4 linked regions of the Homo sapiens genome follow. The protein of the gene in region 1 purifies or fractionates together with the protein of each later gene. This does not show direct contact. Each region holds a gene or a part of one and is shown on either strand. Other genes may lie near its edges. The genes, in order: OSBPL10, CLINT1, MMP2 and WRNIP1.

Evidence for each region.
Region 2: the proteins of OSBPL10 (region 1) and CLINT1 purify together in Homo sapiens (affinity purification with mass spectrometry; one large-scale study listed by BioGRID and IntAct). This does not show direct contact.
Region 3: the proteins of OSBPL10 (region 1) and MMP2 purify together in Homo sapiens (affinity purification with mass spectrometry; one large-scale study listed by BioGRID and IntAct). This does not show direct contact.
Region 4: the proteins of OSBPL10 (region 1) and WRNIP1 purify together in Homo sapiens (affinity purification with mass spectrometry; one large-scale study listed by BioGRID and IntAct). This does not show direct contact.

The regions. Positions count from the first base shown.
Region 1 is NC_000003.12:31,674,450-31,682,248, reverse strand, and holds part of OSBPL10 (oxysterol-binding protein-related protein 10), read left to right. Parts: intron 1-7,799. UniProt on the Homo sapiens protein: Probable lipid transporter involved in lipid countertransport between the endoplasmic reticulum and the plasma membrane.
Region 2 is NC_000005.10:157,804,405-157,812,203, forward strand, and holds part of CLINT1 (clathrin interactor 1), read right to left. Parts: intron 5,402-7,799; coding exon 5,224-5,401; intron 1,709-5,223; coding exon 1,462-1,708; intron 1-1,461. UniProt on the Homo sapiens protein: Binds to membranes enriched in phosphatidylinositol 4,5-bisphosphate (PtdIns(4,5)P2). May have a role in transport via clathrin-coated vesicles from the trans-Golgi network to endosomes. Stimulates clathrin assembly.
Region 3 is NC_000016.10:55,482,198-55,489,996, reverse strand, and holds part of MMP2 (72 kDa type IV collagenase isoform 1 preproprotein), read right to left. Parts: intron 7,089-7,799; coding exon 6,862-7,088; intron 5,982-6,861; coding exon 5,833-5,981; intron 4,699-5,832; coding exon 4,570-4,698; intron 4,394-4,569; coding exon 4,220-4,393; intron 1,455-4,219; coding exon 1,281-1,454; intron 347-1,280; coding exon 173-346; intron 1-172.
Region 4 is NC_000006.12:2,776,332-2,784,130, reverse strand, and holds part of WRNIP1 (ATPase WRNIP1), read right to left. Parts: intron 4,869-7,799; coding exon 4,639-4,868; intron 726-4,638; coding exon 570-725; intron 1-569. UniProt on the Homo sapiens protein: Functions as a modulator of initiation or reinitiation events during DNA polymerase delta-mediated DNA synthesis. In the presence of ATP, stimulation of DNA polymerase delta-mediated DNA synthesis is decreased.

The sequences.
Region 1 (7,799 bases):
CAGCCGTTTGTTGAAAACAGACCCTGGGCGGGGGTAATGGTGGAAACAAGGAGACTAGGGAGGAGGTTGTGAGAATAACTAAGCAGGTGATGATGGTGGCTTGGACCAGGTGGAAAATAGTGGAGGAAGTAAATGTAGTGGAGTAGTAAGGATCTGGATAGGTTCTAAAGTTAGAGCCAAGAGGATCTGCCTCTGGATGGGATGTGGAGTGTGAGAGAAAGTGTTGCCAAGGTTTTGACCTGAGCACCTAGAAGGATGGACTAGCTGTTAAAACTGAGATGGGGAGACTTGAGGGCTGGGTATTGGGCTACTTTGAAGGAAGAGTATGGGAGCTCAGGGCGGTTGTTAGGGTTTAGTCATTGAAGGGAGTGCTAAAGTAGGCAATTGTGTATGCAAGCTGGAGTTTCATAGGGAGGGTCCTGGCTGAGATAAAATATTTAAGGCCTTGAGACTAATGAGACTGCTGAGTGAGCACTGATTTCTGAAGCATTAAGCAGCATTAAGAGGTCTGCAAGATGAACAGCCAGCCGAGGAGACTGATGAGGGGTGGCCAGAGAAGTAGACTGAATGGAATGGGAGAAGGTGCTCCTTGCGAGGCAAGTGAAGAAGGGCTTCAAAGTGCGAGAGTGATCAACTGCATCACATGATGCTGGTTACTCCAGTAAGATGAGAACTGAGAAGGGATCATGGATTTTGGATCATGGAGGTCATTCGTCACCTTGACAGCAGTTGTCAGTGGAGTAGCACTAGTGAAAATCTGACTAGAATAAAGTCAAGAGAGAAGGAAGGAGAGGAATTAGGGACTGTAAATGTGGACAGTTCCTCCTTATTTAGGGTTTGCATGCAATGGTACTGTTTTGGAAAATAGCCACTCTTGGGTTCCACTTCTCTGTTAGGTTTACACCCCAAAGCGCTGCTCCCCCTCTTGCATAGGTAAGATGGCAACTCCAGAGTGCCCACAGGTGTACTCAGCATTCGTGTTGGGCCTTCACTGGGGTCTTCCTTGCATGCAGGTCTAGTAATCAGCAGCTCATGCTGCACTCGTCACACCTTCCTCTCAAGGATCAATCAGGATCAAGAAGTTCACCAATGAGACATTCATTAATTTGTGTAGGAAGCTAGGGACACACCTGTCACCAGGATGATCTTGGGTCACCCAGTTTAGGCCTTTTCCACAATTCAGATGGAGGTGGGTTGTATCTGTGGGGGAAAGATGTAAAAATACATCTATCTTTAGATAAACCTCATCAATAATGAGTATTATCCTCCTCTTAGGTTATCTTCTGTAAGAGTGCAGTATTACAACTATTTTCCAATTAGAAAAATCCCAATTCATGACTGGGTTGTCTGGCTTTTCCTGCTGTTGACAAGGGGAGATGGATGCCTGAAGTGGTCTCTCTTCTTAAAGAGGAGTTGTTACCAGTGATGACTGGACCATGAAATCTTGTAGCTGAAAGGGCATTTGTCCACCATATGCTCCAGGGTTTCCAGCTGTGCTGTAGAGAATCCCAGGCTCCTTAGAGGGGCACAGGAAGTGAGTGGCAAGGTTGGTGTTCTTCCAAGTCCACTCCAGCCCGAGTATCTCCATCCATCCTTACCTATTTACCAGAGGGACTTCCCTATACAAGTTTATTTCCGAAAGGGTTCTGTTGCTTCAGAATGCTCAGCAGACCCCGGATGAGTCCAGCTATCCTCATTTCACAGATGAGGAGCCCGAGAGAGGCAGCTTGCCTAGGAACCCATGCATAATTCACAGTATCCATCCTGCCCTCAGCACAAGCCATTGAAGGGGGATGCAGGGCAGGTGCTGGGGTCTCCTTGAGTCAGGGGCCATTTCTCAGCTCATCTCTGACCTGTGGATGAGATACCAGAATCTGAGGAGGTTCAGGCAGCCCCCTGAGTTCACAAGCCCAGGAAGAGCAGAGGAGCAGGGTTGAGCAGCAGGCGGTGGGCCGGGGAAGGGGGATCAGGTCAAGGGCGATTAGAGCCCTATATGGACACAGCCAGGGCTGTTGAGGCCTCTCTCTGACACTGAGAAAACAAACTTGATTCAAGTGTGCTTCTGTGGGGGCAGGGCTAGAGGAACGAGAGGTATTTCCTCACCGGCCTCTTTTCTGACCCCAGTGACTGCTTGTTCTCCTGAACTCTGCCTTCTCCTTGGATGAAGCGACAGGGAGCTACCACCGTGCAGCACTGTTTGGGTTAAAGCCCCCTGGCAGGTTTCAAAAAGGTGTTTCAGCCCAGACTGGGGACTCTTGAAGTTGTGTGAACTAAGAGCTCCGGTTAGAATACTCGGGTAACTCTTCCTATTGAAAGCAGGGAGAAGATTGCCAAGGACTCCCCTGTGGGAGGTTTATGTTCACATTGATTTTTATACTTGAGTTTGTAATAAGAAATGGGAGCAACATTAATCTTGATTTTGACTTATCTGGGGCTCTGTGTTTTCATAGGTTGCTTTGGGCTTGGCTCGTGCTATGAGGTTTATATTGGTAAAAAATCTTTTCCTTTTCTTAAAAACAAAAATTGGTATTCAGGAGACTCATCTCATTCTATTTAATTTTATTCCTTATTCTAAATTTCCCACATAATAAATATTTTGAAGATGAAATATGTTTGTTTGCCAGAGAAGGTAGAGAAGGCAGTTCACACTTTGTATTTATGCCCCATATGCGAGATAATTCCTTACACATTTTCTACAGTTAGTATTTTAATCATGTTTACCTCCTTATCGGTAACAGTGGTGGCTCGAATAAATCTGTCATTTACCCATTCACTTATCCATTCATCCATTTATTTGTGAAGTGATTGGCACCATCCTTGATGCCAGAGATGCAGCAGAGGCCACAGCACACAGATTCCCTGCCCCCGGGAGCTCATGCTCCAACAGGAGGGTCGGAGAGAAGACAAGACATGTGCGTGAAGTCCTCAATGTGATGGATGATGACTGACACTAAGAGACAAAGTAGGAAGGAGGAGAGTGAAGCTGGGGCAGGGAGGTTGCAATTTTCAATAATGTGGACCTCAGCAAGATAGAGCAGCTGAGGAAAGGCCTGAAGCAGGTTTAAGAAGGGGTCTTCTATGCAAAAAAGAACAGCAAGTGGTAAGGCCCCAAGTTGGGAGCTAGTGGCTGGGGTGTTTTGAGGACAGCCAGGGGCCACTGTGTCTGCAGCAGTGAGTGCGTGGCTGGGAAGAGAGGAGATAAAGCCAGAGAGGAGAGGCCACATTTTGGGATCTGATTTTGGGGCTCTGGAACGTCTTTGCCGTTTGCTCTGAGATGGGAGTCGCTGAGGGTAGACATGATTTTAGCATCCCTGTGTTGGCTGAGTGAAGAATAGACTGAAGGCAGAAGTGGAGAGGGCCCAGTGCAAAGATAGAAGCAGAGAGGCAAGTTGTTTCTTATTTCTCTTCTTCCCTCCTACACACACACACACACACACACACACACACACACACACACACACACACAGTTTGAATCTGTGATTAGTCAGAGTAAGTGCTTGGTGAATAGAATGCCTTTTGTCTGGGGATTTCCCTGCACTCAGCAGAAGTGCTTGTTGCCGCTTGTCAAGGCCTGAGAAAGCCAGATTCTTAAATTGGAGTAGAGGGTCAATACCTCCCAGTCTGTGAGCCCCTAATTCTTGCCATTAGACAAATATGTGGAAATGTTCGAAAAGGTAGATTTGCAATCCATTTTTGGTGATTTAGGGAATTCTTCACAGAAACGCAATCTCTCCCTTCAGGATCCTTCCTTCTCTACCAAATAGCAGTCACTTTTCCCCTGTCCCCGACCACCAGCGGTGGGCTCCGACAAGGAGGTGGCTGTGCAGTGGTGTCACGTGTGTGATTGTGTTTTAAAGCTGGTTATTCTCTCTTCCCCACACAATGTGTTCATCTTTCCCTTCTTCCCTCTACACAGCATGTTCATCATCATCTTCTTCCCTCTGCTTCCCTGCACCCTTGTCCTTCCTGTCTCCCTCTGGTGTCTCTAGCCGTTTCACTTAAGCCACACCGTCAACGGGGCACCCCTCAGCCCAGCACAGCACATGGCCTCCTGTCATTGCCTCTGCAGCTGAACTTGAGAGAGTGATGAGGTCCTTTTAGCCCTCTGTCCCCTGAACTAACCAACATCTTTGCTCTGTCTTTTTTTTTTTTTTTTTTTTTGAGACGGAGTCTCGCTCTGTCGCCCAGGCCGGACTGCGGACTGCAGTGGCGCAATCTCGGCTCACTGCAAGCTCCGCTTCCTGGGTTCACGCCATTCTCCTGCCTCAGCCTCCCGAGTAGCTGGGACTACAGGCGCCCGCCACCGCGCCCGGCTAATTTTTTGTATTTTTAGTAGAGACGGGGTTTCACCTTGTTAGCCAGGATGGTCTCGATCTCCTGACCTCATGATCCACCCGCCTCGGCCTCCCAAAGTGCTGGGATTACAGGCGTGAGCCACCGCGCCCGGCCTTTGCTCTGTCTTATGTTGGCCGTTGTTGAGTGTCCGTGTCTCCACAGGGTAGGCCTGTGAGGTCTCAGGATCATAGCTCCTCTGTTTCTCATAGGCAGCAGGCAGAGGCTGGAGCCCTTGATTCACTTTACCCAGCCCAGGACCACAGTGTCGTGGGTGAGAAGCCGTGGAACACCCTCTCCTGAGGCCCTCAGATGCAGCCTGCAGATGAAGCAGAATTAGAATTTGTTGCTCTCACTTTTTCTAACTGCTTGAAAATGCCACTCAGAATTTCTCAATAGCATGCTGAGTTCAGAAAGAAGATTCTGGAGAGAGACTGTGAAAGGCCTCTCCTGGACATGGCCCTTCCTGGCCACTCACCTGATGTTTTCCTGCTGTGGGTGGGCCTGGGCATGGCCAGGGGACCCTTGGCTCGTTCTTGTGAGGCCTTGAGTTTGCCTAAGTCCCTTCAGTAGCTGCGTCCCCTTATCTTTTGTATTAATTAAAATGTGTCCGCTGTAATGCAGGATCTGATTTTTCACACAAACTATTTCTAAGAATCTCCAAACTTCGAAGCAGAAGGTTCTGGCTCCCACACTCAGAGCTCCTTTGATTGGGGGAAGGCAGGAGGTTGGATAATTTCCCTTCCCTCGCATATTTCCTGCATATTCTATGAATTTGTTGATTGGGTGTAAATAATGCTTTTTCCATCTCCTCATTATAAAAATGAGGTCTTACATGGGTCCACTTGGAATTGTGAACGTAAATACGTGGGCTCATCTCCTAAATCATGGCCTTTAGGCTGTGGCATATTTGACTGTAATGAAATGCTATTATGAAGTGCTTCATTATGCCCTGAATTCACTCACGTTGACCCCAGAGACTGCACCCCTTTCTCCCACCCTCTCGTTTCTATTGCTCTAACAGTGAGAGCCGACACTGTTCAGTCAACCTAAGACCTCTGTCCACGGGAAAGTGTGGGCTGCTCACCCCTCCCAACCTCGCACCGCTGTGGAGCTGAGGGGCGTTCAGCTGCTCTTTGCAGCCCACTTCCCTCAAAATGCCTGAATCAATGCCTGGTAAATGGTGCAGGCTCTTAATTGAGTCTGTGGGGAAAAACAGTTAGTTCTAATGAGAGGAAGCAACATGATTGCCACTGGGCTTGTGAGTGCCAATGCTGCCGGGTCTGCAAACACACTTCCCAGAGTTCCTTCTGTGACTCTACTTTCCAGGATGAATGTCCCAGCTGAATATTTTGGTTCCTCAGATTGAGATTGGACACAAAATTATTTTAAGTTTATCAGTTTGAAAATCTTAATGCTTTGCCTTTATTGGCGAATCAATTTGTGGAATTTCAAATGAAGATCTCCCAGCCTGAGGAAGATGCATGGAAGGATTGATTATTTGATGTTTTTTTTTTTTTTGGCTTCTCTTAGCTGTTAGGCCAAATGAAGAAGTAACTTATATTTGTGATCCCATTTGTAAGTCTAATTTTAATATGTCTTTTATTCATATTAAGGAGATTTTTTTTTAAATGCAACCCTGAAAAAAAAGAGTATGTACTAAGAAGGCATAATTGCAGGTGATTTGATGAATGAACACACATTTATGGATTTTCAGAAACAAGCCAAAGGCATGTGGTCTTGCCAGTGCCTTCAAATCAGTTTAGCTCTGAGGCTCACTGACCTCCCCCAGGACTTGGGGGAAATTTTACCTTGATTTGGAAGAGATTTTTCTGAAGAAAAATGGGAGGAGGATGCTATCTCTTATGCAGTATTACATTAGAGAAAGTCTGCCCTGTGTCTCTTCCATCCCTCACAGGTATAGCCTATTGGAAGACGTTGTAGTTTCCTCTTTTTTTTTTTTTTTTTTTTGAGATGGAGTCTCGCTCTGTCGCCCAGGCTGCAGTGCAGTGGCGCAATCTCGGCTCACTGCAAGCTCCGCCTCCCAGGTTCACGCCATTCTCCTGCCTCAGCCTCCCGAGTAGCTGGGACTACAGGTGCCCGCCACCATGCCCGGCTAATTTTTGGTATTTTTAGTAGAGATGGGGGTTTTACCATGTTAGCCAGGATGGTCTTGATCTCCTGACCTCGTGATCCACCCGCCTCAGCCTCCCAAAGTGCTGGGATTACAGGCGTGAGCCACTGCGCCTGGCCCTGCAGTTTCCTCTTTATTGCCAGTTGGTGATACCCATCGAGAGGGCTGCTTTAAAGAATGAGGAGTAATTAAGACATAAAACCTTCAGGATTTTGGCAGTGTGCCATGCTGCAGTGCTGTTAGCTGAGTTTAGAATCGCCTTCTCCATCTTTACGACAGCCATGGGAGATACAGATACCATTATCTCTGCATCACAGATGAGGAAACTGAGGCACAGAGAAGTTAAGATTGCCAGGCTGGTGAGTGACGGAGGACTTGGAATGATCCTCTAAGATTTCATCCAGGTCTTAAAAAAAGTCGTGGCATATTCTCCATGAAAAAACATGGTGAAGAAAATCTCAGCTGTATAATCCTACCTTACTACAAAGTTTATATTTATGAATGAGACTAGGAATACCAGCCAGCCAAGTTTGTGGCTGTTGTGTGTTTCCAGTCTGTAGAGGTTTCCTGCTAGACATGCAAGAGGTGGGAGTTCCCAATTCCCAAGGTATCCCGATTAAGGACATGAAGGGTGAACCACAAAATAGGAATGCAGTAGACATCAGGGGCAAGGTTATGGTGCCAGGGAGACATATTGCTCGCCTGGAAGGATTTTACTACCAAGTAGAGATGCTCCTTGGCTTATGATGGGGTTATGTCCCAATAAGACCATCTGAAGGTGAAAATATCCTAAGACGAAACTACATTTAATATACCTAGCCTAGCAACATCCTCGCTTAGCCCAGCCTATCTGAAACATGCTCAGAACCCTTACATGAGCCTGCCGTTGGGCAGAGTCATCCGGTAGCACAGTACACTCGAGAGGATGGGTTGTGTCCTAGTCCATTTGTGTTGCTATAAAGGAATACCTGAGAGGAAAGAGGTTTATTTGACTCACAGTTCAGCAGGCTGTACAAAAAGCATGGCACTAGCATCTGCTTCTGACGAGGGCCTCAGGCTACATCCACTCGTGGTGGAAGAGGAAGGGGAACCCCTGTGTGGGGGTCACATGGCAAGAGCAGAAGCAAGGTGGGGGAGGTGTCGGACTCTTTTCCATCTATCTATCTATCTATCTATCTATCTATCTATCTATCTATCTAATCTATCTATCTGTCTATCTATTTGAGACAGGGTCTCACTCTGTTGTCCAGGCTGGAGTGCAGTGACGTGACCATGGCTCACTGCAGCCTCGACCTCCCGGGCTCAAGTGATCCTCCTATCTTAACCTCCCAAG
Region 2 (7,799 bases), on another chromosome or scaffold:
CTATATGTTAGATATATACATGCTAAATTAGAACTCAATTATTAGGCAATGGGGAAACCCTAAGATCCTAGGCATGTTGATTTGAACTTTGAAAACTAAAATACTATATACTGTGATTCCAAAACACCTTTAAGAACAGATCCAAATGAGTTGGGTAACTTTCTAAGAACTTCAACCTTCTAGACATTTTTTTTGAGGGGAGGAGGGTAAATGAAAACAAAAAAGAAAAAGCTTGTACTGCCGGGCGCGGTGGCTCAAGCCTGTAATCCCAACACTTTGGGAGGCCGAAGCAGGTGGATCACTTGAGGTCGGGAGTTCGAGACTAGCCTGACCAACATGGAGAAAGCCCGTCTCTACTAAAAATACAAAAAAATTAGCCGGGCATGGTGGTGCATGCCTGTAATCTCAGCTACTCGGGAGGCTGAGGCAGGAGAATCACTTGAACCTGGGAAGCAGAGGTTGCGGTGAGCCAAGATCGCGCCATTGCACTCTAGCCTGGGCAACAAGAGCGAAACTCGGTCTTCCAAAAAAAGAAAAAGAAAAAGAAAAAGCTTGTACTACAAATATAAAATATTTATTGCAGAGTGTCATATATTCAGGCTATACTACAAACTGTTATTTAAAATCCTTTAAGATATGTGATAAAAGTCTCTATTATTAAAAAAATTATACAGATATTTGGCAAAAGCTGACATGGTATTTGTTATTGCAACTAAGCAGGCCTGGTTTTATTTTCAGAGTCACCTACAATCTGCTGCATACATTAGAAAACTGTTTTTCCCAGCTTTTAGCTATTTCTCTTGCAAAGACACAAACTGGGGAAACAGTAGTCGGGGAAAGTGACAAAAACAATAATTTAGTCTTTTGAGGCAAATCTCCCTATTTGGCAGATTTCTGTTGAAAAGACTAGGGTTTGGCCAGGTACCTAGCAGGTGGATTTCATCTCTATGGTAAATAAAAACAAACGAAGATGGTACAAGAGGCAGTGCTTCTTTTGATACTGATCAGTAATGACTGTGAGGCAAACACGCCTCCCTTTATAGGCAACGTTTCTACATTACATGAGATAACTTGCCCCTATATATCTCTTCTTACTCCCTCGTTTGTCATTTCTTAAAACTTTCAAATACTTCCAATGTTTTCTTTAGTGAATCTACTTGTGGTTGGTAACCAGTATTGTCTAGATGGGGACAGAGGCACTACATTCTGATTCACAACCTTCCCCAAACAAACCAAAAGTGTCATTTCTACTTTCATAGAAAGTACCCAATCATTCAGCAATTGGACAGGTTTCTCCCCTCAAAGAGATTTCTTATTATTAATGTCTCTTGGTAATACATGCCAGATGATCCATAATTAATATGATTGCCTAGAAATGCCCAAGCCTACTAATGCAGGAATTCGAAGAGCGGTTTATAAAAATAAAACCATGTATAATGTGTAAACTACTGCCATTCCCACCTTAACTGAAGACTGAGGTGTGTGGGTTGAAGCATTCTGATCTGGACTTGCTTTGTCCCCTGTGTAATGTGCTGCTGCTCCAAGATCAATGGTTTTGGAAGGATTTGCTGTGCGCTTGTGTCTGGTTGTGGTGGTCTCTGTGGCCTGTGTGATATGAATATGCTTTGTCGTCACAGTCTCCTCTTCATCTTTGAATTCACCTTTGGGAGATCTGCCTCTTCTCGCTTTCTTTTCCTCATCGCTGTCGCTAAAAGATATTAAAAATGAAGCAAAATAATAAGACGGGATTATTTTAAAATGGGTCCCTCAGTGATTTGAGCTAAAGAATTTCAAATACAGTAACTCCAAAATTTCATACTTTGACTACTTGACAGGGATCAACAGAATGTTATCTAAGCTGTCTGAATAATGATATATGTGCGCTGGGGAGGGGAAGTGGAAACACAGAGAATATCCTATATAAGTCTAAAATACTGCTACAAAAAAGTATTTACATAAATGTGTATAAATAAAAAATGTCAAAATAACTCGTTTTTATTACAGATTTAAGCTTAACTTAAAAATAAAATAGGATTTGATATCAGAATCCATGATAAGACCCTGAGAGTTCAAACACTTGCATGTGATGATTATTTTCTTGACATGGACTGTGTGCAAATTACTATAGTTCCACTTTTACAACACAATTCTGCATCAACTCTCAAAGACTAATGTGTGTACATAATAAAATAATAAAAGTTCAATGGATGCTAAAAAAATCACACATCTTAATTCGAATAATTAAACTCATCTGTAAATGCATGAAAATATAAGGGAATGCACTTTACAACTGTGCTATTTTACTATAGTATCAGGAGATCAAACTTTTATATAACTATAGAAAATGCTTTCTAGAAAACAACTGTATTTAAAATATTTTAAAGATAATTCTCCTTCAGCCACATTCAACAATTTTTTCTTTCCTTTTTCTTTAATAGTGAAAAAGATTTTAAAAACTAAACAGTAAAAGCCTGGGTTTTTCATATGCTAGGAATGAAAATATCAGCCCTAGTCTGTTCTCTAGTAACAAGTCATTGGGTTTTTTTCTGATGTAAGTAGGAGAGAGAGAGAGAGAGAGAGAGAGAGCGAAAGAGAGAGAAAGAGAGAAATGTTACTTGAAACATGTTCCATTACCTGTATTACTTAATTTTAGAGTAGGTGGTTTAATTTATAAATATTCTGGAATATAATGTTTAAAATTCTCCTTTAAACTGCTGATGCAATTTACCTCAGACTGAACTATAGCAACTTGTACTTAAATATAAACCAATCTGGAACTTGTATAAATCAAAGATCAAAAAGAATGACTTCCCACACAGAGCAAAGGGGTTAAATATATTTTTATATATAAACATTTTAAGGAACCTACAAGTTCTGATACGCATTCAAAAGCCCTTACTAACTTCTCAACAACAAATGACCTGAAGATTCCCATTAGTCCTACAAGTAAAACTGAAATTTCTTACTTTTTTGGTGTCCAATTTTATTTCAGCGCAAAATAATTTATTCACAAGTTGAAAATATAAATCTGACTAGCACACGATGAAATGGAAGCTCCATATCTGATCAATGTTCAAGAATTCCTGAATGTAATAGTGAACTAATAAGTATGAAATTCAGGTAACATGCCATCAGGATTGAGGTCATATGCAACTCTGTCAAAAAATCTACTCTTCTCTCACAAATACTTTAAGATAAAAAGTTCCTGGTGTGCCCTATCATTATCACGATAAATCATGTTCACTGCATTTTCACTCTTTTAAACCTAAATACTCCTTAAAGATTTAGAAACTCTAGGAGATCCTGTCTTAGAGGCAACATAAAAAATAAAAATCATGGGAGAAACAGAAATAAAAGAAGAGTAGAGAGACAAAGAAAAGAAAAACTAAGGATAGAAGGGCAAAGGAGAGAAAGTAACAATACAGAACACACACAGATATCTAACCAGCCTACATAGCGTTATTGTTTATAAGTAAAACCTAAGACCCAACCAGACTGTGTGGATCTGCCTAAAGTAACACAGTTAGTGGTGGAACTGAGCCTGCCCTGAAATGTCTCTTTTTCAAGACTGTTTGAAAAACTGGAATGTGATCTTTGAAGAGCTAGAACTTATTTTTAGCACTTTGAATAAATCTATTTTACAAGTATATATCTAGCTTTTTTATACTGAAAAAGGATGCATATGATAATTATAAATACTAAACATTGGGAGGGAAATGGTGCCCACTTCAAATATACAGAGCTGTTTCCCTCATTAATGTTTTTGTGGCCTGTGTAAGTTTTGGCTTGGTTTGGAAAACATTATTGAAATTATGGCCATTATTCTGTTGGTATTTCCTGAACAGGCATTCCAGGGATTTAAAAGATATGAAAACATCCTAAAAATACACTAATTAGATTGTATTTTTGTTTGGACCTCTTTTTAATGATCCCTAATTCTGAACTATTAGGATTTTTGGCGCAGGGTAAAGAAAAAGAGATGGCATTTAGTTACGAGAACTCACTTGAAGGCTTGGTTCCATCACTAACTGTGTTATTTAGGCAAGTCCACACAGTGTGACTGGGTTTTAGGTTTTACTTATAAACAACAAAGACAAAATTCTTATTCTACTCTAGTAGAGATATTGTGAGGCACAAATGATAAAGGTCAAATTTAAAAAGTAAAATTTGCTCTGTAAATTAAGTGCTATATGCATTACCCTTTACATTCTCAGAAAAATTGGTTTATAATAATATTGGTAAGTAAGAACAAAAGTGACTGCTGCAAAGCTCAAAGTATTGTTCCATGTAAAACTAAATACCATCAGAAAATGTAGTTTATAAAAATACAGCTCTATTCTCAAAAACTGGTTCAAAATCCATTTGGATTGTTTTTCTGGTACACACTGGCACAGAATCATAATGAAATGTCAAGGAAGCATTAAATTTCAAATCCTTTGACTTATGTTTAATTAAACTTAATATATAAACTTCATTATCCCTCAGTATCTTAGGTCCCTGGATCATCTAAGGTCCAAATGCAAAATAATCTATACAAGTTTTTACTGGGGAAAAAAATCCAAGGAAAGACTACTAGCTTGAATAAAAATACACAGGATCAACTTCAAAAATAAGTAGACAGAGGCAACATGGAAAGTATGTCAATACTAATTGCAAGTAGTGTATAACCTAGTATCTTAAAAATAGTTGCACAGTGCTTGCTTCAGCAGCATATGTACTAAAACCAGAACAATACAGGGAAGATTAGCATGCCCCCTGTGCAAGGATAACTTGCACATTTAAGACTTGTTCCACATTTCTGCACAGGGCATATTTATGGCAGTGAAACTATTCTATACAATACAGTAATGAGGAATATTATGCATTTGTCGAAACCCATAGAAGTGTACAATATAGGAAACCCCAACGTAAACTACAGACTTTAGTTAATAAGTGTATCCATACTGGCTTTTCAATTGTTAACAAATGCACCATAGTAATGCAAGATGTTCACAGAACCTGTTATGAAGGGGAAGTGGGTATATGACAACTCTGTACTTTATGCACAATTTTTCTGTGAGCTTAAATTGCTCTAAAAACAAATGAAGTCTATTAAAAAAAAAAAAAAAGGCCCAATTTCAGATAATGTTAATACCCCAAACAAAACCAACAAAAAACCAAAAACCCAGTGGCATAAATTTAGGGCTCTTTCTAAGAGACCCGGGAGACAAAGTGGTAAAATACCTGCATCTTTCTGGAGAGTCTTCTCTATCTTTCCTCCGGAACTTGCTGATGGTGTCATCAATTGTGCTTCCAATTTTATCACTCAGCTCACCTAATTTATCACTGAATGGAAAAGCACTCTTGTTTTTATCCCACTCCTCATCCCATTTTGATTTGGGCTCAGGATCATATCTTTCACCTAGATAGAGCATTAAAAAAAGAAGCAATTCTAACGACATTAAATTCAAAAGGTATCTACAAGTCCTTATTTCTCAGGCTTTTCCTCATAATAAAATCATTTTCAAAGGAAAACAGAAAGCTCCCACAGTGCTGAATCAACACAATTACAGCAAGGCATAGCATGTAATGCCAGTCATTAAGTGGCAGGAATGCAGATTCAAAAGCTTTTGTTTATGAATACTTACACAACCTTAATGCACAGCACAGCATATCAGGAAATTCTTAAAGGCTACTGAAAGGAGTAGTGGAAAACACAAAACCAACACAAGCTATATAAGCAAAAGAGAAATGAAAATCTTTCTGTTTTCACAAAAGACACTTAATATGTTATATTTTATTCCTGTCCCTTAATGGTTTCCCAATTTTCAGAAAAGCATTGGATAGCAACAGTATCTTAAAAAATACAACTGAAGGAACTCCAATCTGAATGCTACATGTCCCAATAAGCTAAAAAGTCTCAATAACTGTCACGCCTCAGTATCAAACTAAAAAAATAATTCAATGAATTTTCAGGGGATGGGAAAGCATTCCGTAATTACTGTACAAAGAAAGGATTACTCTAACTACCAAAAACTACACATACTAGAATCAGGAAGTATGCTCAAACAGTAGTTCAGAACAGTGTCAACCAATTCAAACACCCATTCCAAACATATGCTGAGACTGGCGAAACCTAGAGCCTCTGTGTGAATTTGGGAATGCAGAGAATAGATCGTGGCAGTAAACAAAAAACCCAAAATGTCAAGATTTGTTTTAGTCCTTGCCCCTAGGGACCCAAAGGAGACATAGGAATTACAGACACAAAATGAAACCCTTCCATTTCCATGTCCAAATCCAACTTAAGAAGCAACAGTAGAAGGTACAGAGAGCACGTGAGGTATTTTTAAAAAAGAAAACATTAAAAATTAAGGCAGGTTGGAAGAAAATGAAAAGGACAATGAGAAACAACAAAATAACTAAAAAGTGGCTAATGGAGCTTTTGTTTTGAACTTTTGTTTACAGGATCTAAAAGGATACATAGCCTTTGGAGATTGAACAAAACGATTTTGCTGAATTGCCTCCTAAAATTGCAAGGCTAAAATTTTCTGTTACATGTTTAAGGATTTTAACATATTTACTGAATCTGGAAATGACCATCAACTTAAAGAAAACATGACAAAATGAAGTTTTCTAGACAAAATTTAAACCAGGATGGTTTTTTTAAAAAAAGTGATTTTCCAACAATGTGTATGTACATTTCAACAACAGTGTGATGAACCAGACTTCGGAAAGAAACAAATTTACACGAAAAATGGAAGTGGATGAAAACCAAACTGATTAGCATGGCATGGTGAACATCATACTGAATTACTGCTAAAGATACTGGATATTGGCAAGACATTATCTAATGTCAGAATGAAAAAACACAAAACTGGCCGGGTGCGGTGGCTCATGCCTGTAATCCCAGCACTTTGGGAGGCCAAGGTGGCTGGATCACTTGAGGTCAGGAGTTCAAGACCAGCCTGGCCAACATGGCGAAACCCTAAAAATACAAAAATTGGCGAGGCATGGTGGCTCACGCCTGTGGTCCCAGCTTCTTGGGAGGATGAGGCAGGAGAATCACTTGAACCCGGGAGGCGGAGGTTGCAGTGAGCTGAGATGGTAACACTGCACTCCAGCCTGGATGACAGAGCAAGAATCCTCAAAAAAAAAAAAAAAGAAAAGAAAAAGAAAAAACACAAAACTGCTAAGAGTGATTAGTTAAGTCTGAATAACATAAACCATGAACAATAACTTAGCAAAAGGATGTGATGCAAACACACAGGATATCCAACTCTATCTTTAATACAGATGCTGCAGTTAGTGCATTGTGACTGAGTTTGAAAACGTATTCAATTTTCTAAGTTTAGCTGATATAATTATATATCATGCTGGCAAAAAGAAAGATACAAGCAAGAATAGTGTGGAAATAAGTTTCAAATAGCAATTTCTATTAAAAACACATTAAGTTGCTACAACTACTTTGAAAAACCTGAAGAATAAAGTTACTACTTGGGTAAATAATCCAAAAACTTTGGACTTCCCCAAATAGAAACTTCAAAACATTATTTATATGCTTTAGGAGAAATATTTTTGCCCAATTCAAAAACTAACTTGTGGCCGACTCTGGTTGCACTGCCTATGAGTTAGCCCTATTTAAAAAAAAGAAAAAGAAAAAACTAACTTGTATTTGATGCTTCAATATAAAAAAGGGAATTTTTCTGCTGTTAGAAACATCCTTAAACAGCTAACTAAACGCAGTGTTTTTTCTTTGAGAGTGGGAAAGCAGAGGAATAAATGAGTAAGGATATTTTATATGTTAAGATTTTTACATGGTT
Region 3 (7,799 bases), on another chromosome or scaffold:
GCTCCACCAGAGATGGGCATTGTCTCAGCCCAGGTGGGCGGGTCTGGGTAGGTGGGTGTCTGGGGGGCAGTGTCTATGCTTGAAGTGGGTGAGGTCTCAGGAAGGTTTTTGGAGCAAGTTTAGGGGCAAGGGCAATGTCCAGGGTCTCTGTCCAATGACCAGGGCCTCGTACCTTGGTCAGGGCAGAAGCCCCACTTGCGGTCATCATCGTAGTTGGCTGTGGTCGCACACCACATCTTTCCGTCACTGCGGCCGGCGCTGGTGCAGCTCTCATATTTGTTGCCCAGGAAAGTGAAGGGGAAGACACAGGGGGCACCTTCTGAGTTCCCACCAACAGTGGACATGGCTGTGGGGTTAGGGATACGGGTCAAGGCGCAGCAAAGAGTCTGAGGCTACCACCAGGAAGCAATGACATGACGCTGACCTTAATGAACCACACCTAAGTTAGACTCAGTCCCAGGCACTGTATCTTTAGACTCATCTCACCCACCCCTGACAACAGCCTTGTGCAGGAGGGACTGAATAGCACCGCGTTTCATGGATGGGAAATAGATCAGAGAGATGATGAAATTTCCCTAAGCCAACACTGCTAGGAAGTATCAGAGCTGCAATTCAAACCCAGGAAGCCAGATTCCAGAGTTCTAATGAGCCTCCCATGGAAGGGGGCAGATGGGCTAGGGGCAAAGGGAGTTGGATGAAGCTGATGGCACCAGCACATGCCCCTCAGCTGTGAGCCCCCTTGGGCAGGGCTTTGCAGAGACCAACCTCTGTGTATGCTGCACAAAGCAGGCGCTCAGTAAATTCCTGTTGGAGGAAGGGAAGAAGGAAAGGAGGGAGGGATAGAGAGGAGGGCAGGAAGGAGACAGGGAGGAAAGCACGGAGCTCTTAATAAAAAACAGACTAAAAGGTGGAGATACAGACCAGGAAAGGCAGGGAAGAGAGATTGCAGGGTCAGAGAGGAGGAGAGAGAAGTCTCTGCCAGAGAGCCTGAGAGAAAAGGGATGCAGGTCGGTCAGAGGATCCTGAGCAGGCCTGACATTTAAGTGTCACCAATTCAACTGTTGATGCCCAATGTCTGTTCTGATTTCAGTGCCCAGGCCATACCAGGTGACAAGTATCCTGACTAGCTACACGGACATCTTGGTGTGGATGTCATTCGCACAGATGTCTTAGCACCCCTGTCTTGGGGAAAGGAGGTGGGCACTCGGAGTCTTATGGGTTTTTTTTTTGTCAGACAGCAGGTGCTGGGCCCTGAGGGAGGGAGAGGGAGTGGCACCCACCGGTCTCAGGGCAGAAGCCATACTTCTTGTCGCGGTCGTAGTCCTCAGTGGTGCCGCACCAGCGGTAGCCATCCGTGCGGCCCTCAGTGGTGCAGCTGTCATAGGATGTGCCCTGGAAGCGGAATGGAAACTTGCAGGGCTGTCCTTCAGCGTTGCCGCCCATGGTGAACAGGGCTAAGGGTGGGGGAGAGAGGGAAGGATGTGAATGAGACATGCTTCCATGGGCACAGGGCTGGCTGGCTGCCCACCTGCCGGTTCACACCAGTGAAGTTGATGCATTGTTAAAATATTAAGAAAACATCTCTACTGGTTGGTAAGGAGCTGCTTCTCTGAGCTCCCAGAGAGAACCCCTGCTTCCCTGGTTATCCCAATCCCTCCCGTGGGACCTTGTGGACCACCCAACAACAAAATGATTGACACCTGGCACACAGCAAGGGCTTCTAGAACCCTGCCTCAGCCCCAAGGGCACTGTCCATTCTGCCTGGTCCACACCTGTACCATGCAAATTTCATGTAATAATGATGTATGACATGAATATATCAGTCATGGCAGGCAGGACCACGAGAATCTCTCTCCATTTGATAGGTGGAGAAATCAAGGCTAGGACAAAGATGGTTCTCAAACTGCTCATGGTCACAGAAATGAAAGAAGTGAATGAAGGTTGTAACTAAAAACTACAAAACACACTAATCTCAATCTCTCTTGCTTAGTCTGTCACTCTCATATATGTGTGTGTGCGTGCACACGCATACACAGAAAGCTTGCTTTACCTCCTGTCAACCCCAGGCCCCTTCCTGGATGGCCTTGTTGCAGTCTCTGTAGGAAGGAGAGAAAGAATGAAGAGGAGGAGGGAGGGAGAGGGAGGTGGTGCCTTCAGGTCCCTTTTACTAAACACTCTGGGCTCCTACTTTGACATCTTCAAGACAGGGGCCATAAATGGAGAGTTGGGGGAGGGAGTGGGGTTCAGAGCCTGGCCTGTCTGTCTTGGATTCTCCCCATCCTCCCCTCATCCACCCAAAGCTAAAAAATGGTGTCTCTGGAATTGCCAACCAGCAAAACCACAAGTCCATAACAAGGACCATCTGTGCACAACGGCGCCAGAGGTGACCTCACCAGCCCCCGTTAACTCCACCATGGCCGGAATGGAGCCCAGTCCCTGGCCTCCCACCACAGAACTCGAGGCCCTGTATCCTCACCACTCCCCTCTCTACCAAAAGACCTTGTCCTGCAATGCCAGAAACAATGGCACCTAGAGAAAAGGCAAGACTGAGTCCAGATACCTTAGTGGCCTCAGAGTTGAGAAAGGCAAAGCGTTAACTTCGACCAATGCCAGCCCCCTGCCTCTGACCTCTCATTTCTACCACCCAGGAAGCCCCTGTCTCCTCCCAAATTCCCCTGACAAGGATGGCAAGAATCAGACACTGACTCAGCCATCAGCAGGGGCTGAGTAACAACAATCTCTGCCTCGAGACCCAGACACGTGCGTGTTGTGCGTACTTGCATCTGGCTAAGCACAAAGTAAATGGCTAATGTCCAATGCAGGGAATAACCCTTCCCAAATTTATGAAATACAGCTGTTTCCACATCTAACTATCACCAAAGCTTTCTGTTCCTATCAGAGGGGTGACACAGGGAAGGGTTAACGCCACATGTAATCCCTACCGGGAAACGCAAGATACAAAAAATATTTTTATTTCAAAATGTCTGACTTATTAATGGTGAATGGCTTAAACTCTTACTTAATATAAAGTTTAGCTCTGGTAGTAAAAGCATAAACAGGAAGGGAATTAACTAGCTCTTTGTTTCTTTCATTCTGTCAAGATGGTTGGTGCTTAGTTTTCAGTTACAGTGGGGTTAGGGAGATTCACAGACATAAAATTACAGACAAAAAGACAGTCTTTAGTCTATGTAGACTATAGAGTCTTTGTGACATGGGAAAGAAGATAGTGTTAAAAATTTTTAGACTTTTTTCCATTTTCGCCAGGTTTTCTGGGCTTTCAATCTGCAGAATTATCAAATATGATGACTTCATAGAGTATGAAGTTACATTGTCTTTTTGTGATTTATGACTATTAAGTGTGTCAAGGATATTTTTAAAAAGGATTGAGTGTGTATGTCAATATCTGTACCCCATTTTAAAAGATTTCCCCCATGTGGCTTCAAAATCTCTGAAATGTTGCATCTCAGGCACTGACAAGCACACAAACACAAATACTGAGTCAAGCCTAAAGTCTTTATCAAGACACAGAGATGCAGACACAAGCTAGACAGGAGGCAGAAAAAGACAGTGCCCAAGAGAGGCAGATAGTATAGCCCCCGTGCCCAGACACACACACACACACACACACACACACACACACACACACACAGGCACACACACACACACACACACACGCATTAGCAGAGGCAGCATCAGGACCAAGGCAGGAGCAATAGCTGAAATTCCTCAGTTGGAGTACGCAAACCAGGTTGAGTCCAGCCCTGGTCTGAGTCCTGCCTCCCTATCACACTGCTAGGTTTCCAGCTACCAGCAAGCCTTTCCTCATGCCCTTGAAGTATCAATCTTGACTGAAGTGTAAAGACTGGTTCTAGAGAGAACCACTGGGCATTGTAATAGTTCTAAGTTCACTCCAATATATATTAGAAATAAATAATTAGCAAATCAAATCTGTGACTTCCTAAATGATTGCTAATGGTGAAACTTAAAAAAAATCAACTTGATTTAATTAGAGTACTACGTTCATCATGGTACTGGTGGGAGAGAAACAGCAATGGCTCAGATCAGGATGGGGGGGAACTGAGTGAAGGACGTTGGAGGGATGCTCATTAACTGGCAGTGGCAGCCAGTCCTGGAGAGTGTGGAGGGAAGAGCACACTGGGGAGCCCGGGAAGCTGGAGGCTTGGGGTGGAAAGTCTTGGGGACTAGAGTGGATGCTCACCTTCATGGGGACAGAAGCCGTACTTGCCATCCTTCTCAAAGTTGTAGGTGGTGGAGCACCAGAGGAAGCCATCGCTGCGGCCGGTATCAGTGCAGCTGTTGTACTCCTTGCCATTGAACAAGAAGGGGAACTTGCAGTACTCCCCATCGGCGTTCCCATACTTCACACGGACCACTAAAGAGTGACATGGAAGGGGGAGGTTGGACTTCTCCAGGCCTTCTTTGGAGACCAAGATTCTGACTCACCCAGATGTGTGACTTTCCTCCCCTCCCACCTCTCTGGTCCAAGCAAATGGAGTGGAGAGAGGACAGGAGAGAAGGTCTGGGGCATGCAGAGGGCCCCTTTCTCACCTTGGCCTTCTCCCAAGGTCCATAGCTCATCGTCATCAAAATGGGAGTCTCCCCCAACACCAGTGCCTGGGGCGAAGGCATGAGCCAGGAGTCCGTCCTTACCGTCAAAGGGGTATCCATCGCCATGCTCTGAAACACACACTGGGTCTTAGCGTCTAGCTGTGCCACCTAGACCCTGAAACCCCTCCACACCCCATCTACATGTGGAGCCTGTCAGCCCACCCAGCATCTGTCCCCTTCCCTTGTCCCAGTGGGGTTATCCAGGACTGTCAACAGGAGCTCAGTAGAGATCTGCTGACCTGGTTGTTACCATCCTATGGTCTACACTGCTCTCCCAGGTTTACATGACTCCCAGTATCCATACCCTCTACCTCCATTGTCTACTCTACCACCATGACACTATATGTACCACATACCCACATTACCACACTAGTGTCCTCACCCCATCTTCATCATCCCCAGTGTCTATGCCATCCTCCATCCTGTCAATACTGCCCTCTTAACCACAATCCTGCCTTCATGTCACACTATCACCAATATCTGCAACATGAATCCTCATGCCCACCTTGTCACCAAGGCCTGTACCACCCACCCACTTGTCTACATTGTTTCCCCTGCTCTTTACCTTCATCACTTACCACTCAGTGTCTATACCACATACCTTTATGTCTGTGCTACTGGCAGTGTTCACACCATAAACTCACATGGCCACCTGGCCCCAGGTTCTACGACCCTTCCTCTAGTGTCTACACTGCTCCACTGTTTCCAAACCACTCTCATATATCTACAGTTCCTCAGTGTCTACCAGCATCATCCAACAGAGCTTTCTGTGATTAAGAGGAATATTCTTTGTCTGTGCTGTCCAAAATCAATAGTCACTAGCCTCCTGTGTCTTTTGAGCACTTAAAATGTGCCCAGTGTGACCAGGAAACTAATTTAAAATTTTTAACTAATTTAAATTTAAACAGCCATGTATATTCTGCCTAATGGCTGCCATATTGGACAGCACAGTAGACCACTTGCTTCGGGTTTAGACGGCCTCCAGGTTATACCACAACACACCATCTGCCCCCATGTCAACGTGGCTCTCCAGTGTCCACTCCGTGTTGTGCTGCCCCCATCTAAACCACCCCCAGGGCCCACACCATCTACTGTCCTATCTAAGCCGCCCTTAGGATCCCCACGCCCCTCTAATGTCCATCTCACCCCCTCGTCTCAACACTGATCCCTGCTGGCCCCTCTTCTGCCCCATCTTCTGCCTACCCCAGCGGCCAAAGTTGATCATGATGTCTGCCTCTCCATCATGGATTCGAGAAAACCGCAGTGGGGTCACATCGCTCCAGACTTGGAAGGCACGAGCAAAGGCATCATCCACTGTCTCTGGGTCCAGATCAGGTGTGTAGCCAATGATCCTGGAGGTGGTAGAACTGCATGTGAGTGTGTATGCATGTGCATAAGTGTATGTATATGCAAGTATGTGTGTGTGCACAGATGTATGAAAAAGTTTGAGTGTGTGTGTGTATGTGAACATACAAGTATATGCACAAGCACGGGAAGGGTGCACAGGTATGTGTATGTATATGTGAGCATGTGCCTGCGTGTATGTGTGTGTAGGCTGGGCAGGGCTCACTGCCAAGGACAACCCTCCCAGAATGCCTTGAAGACCCAGGGAGTCCCAGGCCAGCCAACATTTTTAGGCCCCAGCTCAGGAGTTCCATCTGTCACTTCTGGCTGGTGGGGGAGGGCCATAAGTAGTGCATTATGGGGCACAGGGCAAAGATCCCACCATTGGAACCCAGCACCACCCATACAGAGCACAGCTCTTGGCCCAATTAGCAACCAGTTATAACCCAATTGGGCTGCTAAACCCAATTAGCTACCAATCATCACGTTCCTTCTGCCCATCCCAATGACCTCATCTAAAAACAATAACAATGACTAGCATTACTACACTCTTGCTCTGTGTCAAAAATCATAGAAGCCGTTTGTATTAGTTCAGCCTAGCTTAGTTCCCCAACATACCATATAAGGGCATTTTTTAAGCCCCATTTTGTAGATTGGAAAGCCAACATTCACAGCACTGAAAAGTAACCCAATGTCTCATGGCCAGCAAGTATGAAACTCAAGTCTGTCTGACTTCATTTTCTAAGAACTGTGTATTGAAACTCCCTAAGATGTCAAGCCTTCACAAAAGACACCTCATGGATCCCCTGAGTGGAGAGAATGCATGGGTCAAGGAGACTCGTGTCCCTCAGCCCCATGGCCCTGCCTCCCCAAGCCCTGCCCCGGCACCTGTATGTGATCTGGTTCTTGTCCCACTTGGGCTTGCGAGGGAAGAAGTTGTAGTTGGCCACATCTGGGTTGCCGCAGCGTGGCTTCCGCATGGTCTCGATGGTATTCTGGTCAAGATCACCTGTCTGGGGCAGTCCAAAGAACTTCTGCATCTTCTTTAGTGTGTCCTTCAGCACAAACAGGTTGCAGCTCTCCTTGGGGCAGCCATAGAAGGTGTTCAGGTATTGCTGAAAGAAATGCACACCCCCAAGGCAATTAGCCACATTAGGATGGCACAGTACTGACCAAAGCAGGCTGTAGCAATCAGCCCCCCAACCCAGTGCCATAGTCCAGACAGGAAATAAGCCAGGGGTCCCAGAGCACTGGGTGGAGTACTGGGTTCCCAAACCAGCACGGTCACCCATTAGTTGAGCGACAGGACATACAGCTATAGAGAGCATGGCTACCACTTGTTGGTGCTGGGTGCTGACTATATGTCCAGGCACTAAAGTCAGAATATGTTAACTCATTTAATGCTCAAAACTCTGTAATGTAGATATACTAACCCTATTATACAGAGGAGGAAACTGAAGCACAGAGAGGTTAAGAAACTTGCTTACGATCACACAGTTCACAAATGGTAGATCTGGATTTGGGACAAAGCAATCTGGCTCCAGAGGCTGTGATATGGAATCATTATACTCCAGCATCCTTCCTTTACCTCTATCAACTCATTTATCTACCTTGCGGCTGGTGACTTGGGGACTTTTTTCCTCCTGTTTTCTTCTAAAGAGATTCAAGGACTATGTGCATGGGCTCTGGCAGTAGACAGACCTGGGTTTAAATCCTGAATCAGCCATTTGCAAAAAGAAAGTAGTCCTGTCCTTCATGAGTCATACAACTGGCCCTGCCCAAACTGAGGCCCAAACTGAGCAGGTCCCTGCAGAGGTTCAGGGAGC
Region 4 (7,799 bases), on another chromosome or scaffold:
TGTGGTGTTAAGAACTGTTTCCTTGTGGATAAAAACTCTGCATCTAGAAAAACATGAGTCTCTGTATAACAAACATAAGAAGTGAAGGCTATGGAGACATTCACCAGGATGGAAACACTAAAAACAAAACATCCCCTAAGACCAAAGAAGAGGAGAGCTTTCCTGATCTTTTTCTTCATATAGTGTCTAGAGTCTTCCATTTCTACCTTGGGAGCTGTCCAAAGAAAACCTTGAACACCTGACTTAAAGCAAATTTAAAAGCAGCTCATCTATTGCAATACTCTGAATAGCCACTCATGTTAGTAAAAACATTCCCGAAGAGGAAACAGAAAATGGTGACTTTATGAACATAAACATTCAAAAGCACATACACCAGGAAATAAACGACTGAGCTCAGGCATAAAGTCTTATCTTCTCCTGCCAGTCTCACATAGCCCTGAGACATTCTTCCTGCTACCCCCGCCCACCCCGCCCTGCAAAAAAAAAAAAAAAAAAAGCCACGATGTAACTGTTAGCCATTTCCCCACCCTCATGGACATAGGACTCCGGGACCCTCCCATCACACTCACCTATGTCCTCGCTGGCAAACCTGACAAGCCTCCGTGCCACGTAGAGTGGGTCCTCTCCTCCCTCGAGCATGCGAGCCAGCCAGTAGAGGGAGGCGTTCTGGTCTGAGCCCCGCATGGACTTGTGCAGGGCGGAGATGCAGTTGTAATGCTCCTCACCTGACATCACAAAGAGCACCACTCACACAGAGCTCACAGGAGGGGCGCCCAAGCCATCTTCACCTCCGCCAGCTGACTTCCAGAAAGCCTGAACGAATAAAGGCCCTGAGAAAGCCGAGGAGAGGTTTGGGCAGCTGCCTTAACCGTGCTCTGAGTGGGGTGCACCAGCTGCTGGGGCTTAATCCCAGTCCTATTCAGGGGAAGAGGCTGCTGCAGCAGAAACCTGTGGCTGTCGACATGGAGTGCACGCACACGCACAGAGGCAGGAGGGAGGAAAGGTGGTCCTCCCAGCTGGTGGATTTGCCAGAGACAAGAGTGGAGGGGGACGAGTCTTCTGTTCTGGCTCTATCCCGTGGCCCACCATCTACTGGAGGAAAAGCAACGGTGGGCCTGCTCGGAGCCAGGAGGATGTAGAGCCAAGTGGCAAGGGCAGCTGTTATAGCCCATCTGTTCCTCAGTGTCATTTCCAGCTGCCTTTCTGATATCCGAAGCCTGTGGTCATTTAAACCTCCTTCTGCCAGCCTTGGTGTGGGGACACCTGTGTGGCAGGGTCCCAGAAGGACCGACACGTGGACTAACCAGCTTCCGCCCTGAAGTGGACGGAAGCCCACTCTCTCACCGCCTGGTCTTACTACTCCATTTTTACCCTAGATTCACATGAAATCAGTGAAATGTGCTTTAAAAAAAGGCATATTTAAGGGCAAAAAAATGACAGCTAAACAGTTCTCAGGAACTAAGCAGTGGCACCTGCATACATTTCACTATTCTCTGGCCATCGTCCCTTAGGTAAGTTCAAGGAGGGGGCACCCTCCTCACGAGAAAGCGGAGGATGGTGTTCCCGTGAGTCTCACTCCTCCCAGAGGAGCACCTGGTCTGTGCTCAGCATAAGCCCATGTCCACAATACGACTGGCGCCAGCCACAAACCCTGGCAGCTGAGCTCGCTGGTAAGATGACAGTTGGTCTTCAGGTGGAGAAGAGAGCAAGCGAAGATGCTGGCCTCCCACAGGGGAAAGACCTGCAGGACCCACGGCTCAGCCTGAGTGATTCTGGTTTCTGAGAGCCAGGGCAGATGGATGGGTCAGCCCAGCTACTGGATTTCTGAGAACAAACTGAGTGTCTCCTGTGCAGGGCTCCCCTGGTGAAGTCAGAGTGCTATGGACACTGGCCGAGAGGGTGTCCTGGATGACATCTGCATGGTTCTGGCCCACTCCCTCACCCTGCTGGCCCAGGCACTCAGGCTACGCTCTGCTCCTCTGCAGGGTGGAGGAAGGCGGGGAAGAGGGTAGCAGGTAACAGGCCTGGCTAAACTCACGGGCATGGGGGCTGGAAGAAACTACCCACACCACTTTATGTCAAATTTAAACTCCCCCTACACAGGTTAGTCATCTTTTCCCACTTTGTCAATGCCAGGGGCAATACCACCAGTATAATGGACAAGAGCACAGGCTCTGGGACCAAACAGCCTGGGCTGGACCCCCAAGCTCATGGGCCATGGGCAAGTTCCTGATCCTCACTGTGCCTCAGGTTTCTCATCTGTAAAATGGGAAAAACGAGACCACTTACCTCACAGGGCTGTATTAAATAACACACGCCTGGCACAGAGCAGGCACTGTAAAAAGATTCTTTTGCATCAGTGATAGATACTAGTATTATTCTATGCTACCTTCCATGTTTGCTTTTATTACACACTGCTTTATAACCTGAAATCTGACGACTTCTATAGAACCCCGATGTCAATGCATGGCAGAGAGTTTGCTCTCATTTAGAAATTCCTTCACTCTGATGCAGAAACATCACTGGATCCTACTAGTGGGTAACTATGAACTAGGTGGCATATACAAAAATAATCACAACTCTGGGGGTGGGTCTTTGTCTCACTGGAGTTATAAAAAGGCCCAAGAGTATAAGCTAACAGGTTTCCAGGGCAATGCTTCCACTATCCCTATTTATAGAGCAAAGCCTGTAAAAGCAGCTTTCTCCAAGATCTGAATGATATTTATGTGTCTGCGGATCCACTGTGGGGCAGACATGTTGCACTGGGGTGGGGTGTGTAAACACACTCATACTGGGAAGATGTATAGGATGTGGGGTTCTTAAGGCGCTGGCACTAGGCAGCGGCACTAGGCAGCCTCCACCACCCCCCAGCTCCAAGCTATAGACAAGGTGATCCCCACTGTGCAGAGCTCTGCAACGTGGAGCTCAGGAAGTGGGATTCCTAGGACTGAACCCCTCCAAGATCCGCTCTGTATGTGCATGGACGGGTGACCCCTCTCAGGAGCATGATGTAATGGGTGAGATCAGTAACAGCATGGCAAGGCTGGTGTGGAGGCAAATGCGGACGGGGGGAAGGACAGTCTTGGGAACCAGTAAGACCTGGATTTACGGGTCAGTTTCACCACTTGCTTTGTTATCTTAAAATGGGGGTAATATTAATAGCTATCTCCATAAAGCAATTTTGAGAATTTAAAAAATGAATACACCTATAAAATACTCAATGGCTGAGTGTTAGTGAATGCCATGTTATATGGATCTCAAGTGACAGTCTGATAAAATGTCAAAGAACAGTCCTAGTCGTTCCAATCAAAACAAGGCAAATCCTTTGGGACACCTACAAGAAGAGAGAGAGAGACCGCTGCTGCTGCACTTCAGAAACAATGGCGATCCCGGCATGGTGAGATTTTTTTAATGTCTTAAAATCTTTTTTCTTGTTCATATCTACATTTTTTCTATTTGACCAAAAGTCAAGCAGGGCTCTACACACCTAGAATGTGTTGCTTTTCAGACTTTGCAAGCATTCACGTCATGCTCCAGAGCACTAGGGAGAGCCAGCCATCTGAGCAGGCCCCGCTGAGGCACATTCACGTCACAATGTAGACAGGATTATTTATTCAACTTGCCAGTGTGTCCTTAGCACTAATGAACACCCCTGAGCTACCATCAGCTGAGGCACGCTAAAGCCAAAAAGCTTTGGTCAGCCCCCCTAGGTCATGCAGCGAGTGTGCTCACCCACGAAGAGGCAGCGCTTGGAACCAAAGTCATTCTTAAGCCCCTCCACCCCTTCTCTAACCAGTAAGGACTCTCCATTGTCACGTGGCACAGCCTACGTGAGATCAGGAACATTCAATTATCAGCCTCCTTTTCTGGCAGAGCTTTGAAAAGTGTGGAAATTATATTCCACAGTTACTGCAACATGATTCCATCCAAAGTCCCACAAATGCTCAAGCAGCAGAAGTTTGCTAATCTACAGTATGTTATATTCATCTCCCACTTCTTTTATAAAAAGATGCAAATGTGCTGTGCTAATGACATTTAATATTGCTAAGTCACAGATTTAATAAGAGCTGGTATCAAATCTGCTATCTGTAAATGCAGTTCTACAAAAACAGATAAGTGCACACAGCAAAATTAAATTTTTGAAAAAGCTACTACATAAAATAAAAACTTCAAGATCCATGACTATTTTTTAGTATAGACTCTAGAAATAAAGCATTTTAATTCTCAATTAAAACTAATAAGTCATTATGACAAAAGTCCTCTTTTTATTTACTGCCGTTGTAAATGATCACAAAACATATTCATTGTCAAGTGAATGCACAGGCTTTCAAAGGTGATTGTATTCTGCAAGGTGGGGAATAGCCAACTACCTTCTAAGGTGAATGTGCAGCCTGCCATTTCCAACCCCAAAACTCCTCTAGATTCTCAACAGGGCAGCTTCTGCTTCATGCCTCTCTTCGGAAAGGTCAGCCCTGTGTAGAAGGCTTAATACCAACATGCAGATCCACCTGAGAATCACTGGAATGCTCTGGACCCAGCTGGAATGCTTCCGGAACCCAGTCAGGCTTCCGGAAATGAGAATGTGTGCACACACTTCTTTCCGTATGGTTTCACTCTTTCCACAGGTGAATTACTTACCTGCCCGGTCATATAAAATGTGGGATCGCTGTAGGCCCTCCTTCACGTCATTCTCTGTGATCAGAACTCTACTGGGAGAATAGGATTGCCCACTCTTCTTACAGAACATCTTCCTAGAGCTTAACCTAGCCAGCACCGCCAGCTGCAGTCCGTTCAACCCAGCTCGGGCGTCACCGTCACTGAGGTAAGCCAGGGTGTCTACTGCTTTATCCTCTATGAACATGGCGGGCCTGAAACACAAGCAGGGTTAGTTACGGTCACACTCAGGCTGCATACTTCTTGTTCTGCACATGTCTTAGAAACTCATACTTCTCAGCAAGGACACTGAAGAGTTCAAGGCCTTTGCCTCTTATTCTCACCTTTGTCAATGTGCTTAAGCATCATCAAGACTACGAACTGACTGGGGCTCCTAAGTCACCAGGTTATCGCCCTGTATCTTATGAGTGTCGAGGGTATCTCACTGCATAGGTTCATACATCTAAGTCTGTGTGAAACAGACACTGACTGGCCTGGAAAGTCACTGTTGACAGGTGGTCTCTCTGGTTCTACCCTGCACAACAGTGAAAACTTTATTAGAAATGCTAGCACCTCATTACCGTGTATGGAAAACATGTTCCAAATGCAGCCTACATCCGATGAGACAGATGTGCTTAGACCACTTTCCACACAGGGGAGAGTCAGCATTATATCTGAATATTAGCTCTGAAGGGCTCCAGATCATGCAGTTCAATTCCTTCATTTTAAAAACAACAAATTGGGTCCCTAGTTACTCTGAGCACAGCAGGTCCTAGAAGCAGGTCTCAGGATTCTCTTGGCCTGGGGAATCTTGGGATGCTGCAGTAGGTCATCTCATAGTGGACACTAATCATGCAAAATCCGCACAGGGTAGCAGAGAGGTCATTAGCCTGGGAAGCGACGAGAAGACTGCTGGTACATAGCCATGAGACCCTGGGTAAGCCACCTAACCTCTCTCTGAACATCAGGACTAAAACTTACAGTCACATTTCTAAATTTGGACCCTCATAAATAAGATCTAACTATGATCAGAAGGCTGACTCAGTAAAATTTTCTATCCCTAGTTGAGTTAAACAAGACATCTAACACATTTCATAACTTAGTGGGGTCTTATTCCTGGCTGAGCTGCTAGCTGCACATTTGTGAAGCAAAAAAATAAAATTTTTCAGTTACAGTTCACCCATGTCATCAACATTCAGCTGAGAACATCTACAGTAAATAATAAGCCCATTAGGACTGTCCGAATCAGCTACCTGGAAAACAATGTACAGGCACCAACGGGGCTGGGCCGGGGAGGGGTGGCAGTTTCCGAAGGGGACCCAGCTTGCCTGCTGGATCAATGCAGAACTCCTCAGCATACACCCACTCACTGACACTACTCTGCTCACTGAGTAACCCAAATAACACCAATCTGCATTTCATTCACGGAAGGATTTGTTCCCAATGCCTTAAAGATGCCTCATCTCACCCCCATATTTACCAAAGTTGATTTCCAGTTATTCCTTGTGGGTCTCTCACCACACCTAAGACAACTGGCCAGCCCCAGCTTTACAACAAATGACTCTCTCCTCACTCATGCCAACTGCCTGGGCCCCAGAGCCAGTGGTGCAGCCTGGAGACCCATCTTCCTCTCTCCTGATGGTAGCATTCTCTCAGCAGACCTCACCAGAACAACAAAAAAACAAACACCGAGGCCATGTCACTGGCACTCTATAAAGCCTGGGGATCACTGCTCAACCAGAAATTAGTTAGCAAGTCTTCTGGAAGATGATTTAGAAGATAATGATGGACAGAACATATACTAAAGAAAATGTATGGGGAAGGACCAGCATCACAGGGGTGTAGCAGTACGTGACATGCCTGAGAGGGAAGGGTGCACTCTCAGCCCCTTACTGCACTCAACCTGTGTGGGAAGACAGGTAGGGAGAACAGAAACTGCTTGGGCATCTCATTTCTGCCTCAGAACTAGTAAAAACAATGGATTCTCTCTCCTTGGAAAGCTGCCTAGCAACAAAAAGCCTTCAGGACAATTGAGGGAAGAAAAAGGAGTCAAAGCAGGAGCCCCATTGGATCCTAACGGACTGAACTAGCCTATATCCTGCACCATGGGTTGGATTGTGTGTTGATTACATTACATTCATCATCCCTACTATGCGGAGCACCTCAAGGAGAGGAATATTTTATTCTTTGTATTCCCAGACCTGGTAGATGATAGGCATCCAATATTTGCAAAATGAATGGACTAACTTCAGTTTTATCATAATCTCAGAGTGAAACCTTTACTTCTTATAAATTATATGGAAAGTATAGAGAAAACAAAAAGAATCCATATTTCCAGCACTGAGAGATAAAAATGTACTTGATATTTCCAGCAGAATGAAAGCTACTGTGCCAAGTGCTGACTTTACGATCCACTCACCCATGCAACCATCAACCTTACAGCTAACCTAAAACAAAAACTGGGACCATATTTTACATAGTTTTACATCCTTAACCATTAAATAATTGTTTGAAAAACAAGCTACTCAGACCTGTCAACATTTACTTTAAAAAAATTTACATTAAATTTTAAAAATAGACAAAGGGAGAAAATTCACCTTCTGCTAGACTACCTTGACGTTAGTATTTTGGTATGTATCCCTTCTCCATGAATTTGTCTTTTGTATGTATTTAGGGGCATGGCATGCTCTTTGGACAGTGACGAGATGGGCAGCCTTATATACCATGGTATTTACTAGTATAAACTGCCTCATTTCCATTAGTCCTCATATACAGACAGGGAGGCAGGCCTTATTAATTAGGACAGAAGCCAGCTAGCCGTCTACTCCATTGATTTATCAACAGTATGCTGTGAATAAGTCTTTAGCAATGATTATGTATTTTATGTGGTTGGAAAATAAGGTCTTCCTTTGGCTTTTAAACTCCTGACCAAAGTACAAGTGGTTCCACACTTCTGGTTTGGAGTCATGGGGAATGGAGGTGCTGCCACAACGAAAGCTACCTGAGCTCGCGCCACTCCCTTCTTCTTCCTCCCCTTGGGTATAATCCACATTTTAAATTTCACCCCGTCCAAAAGAAGAAAGTATTTCGAGGCCCAGATCAATCTGTCGGCAACTCTGTCCAAGTAATACAGGACCTGCTGACAG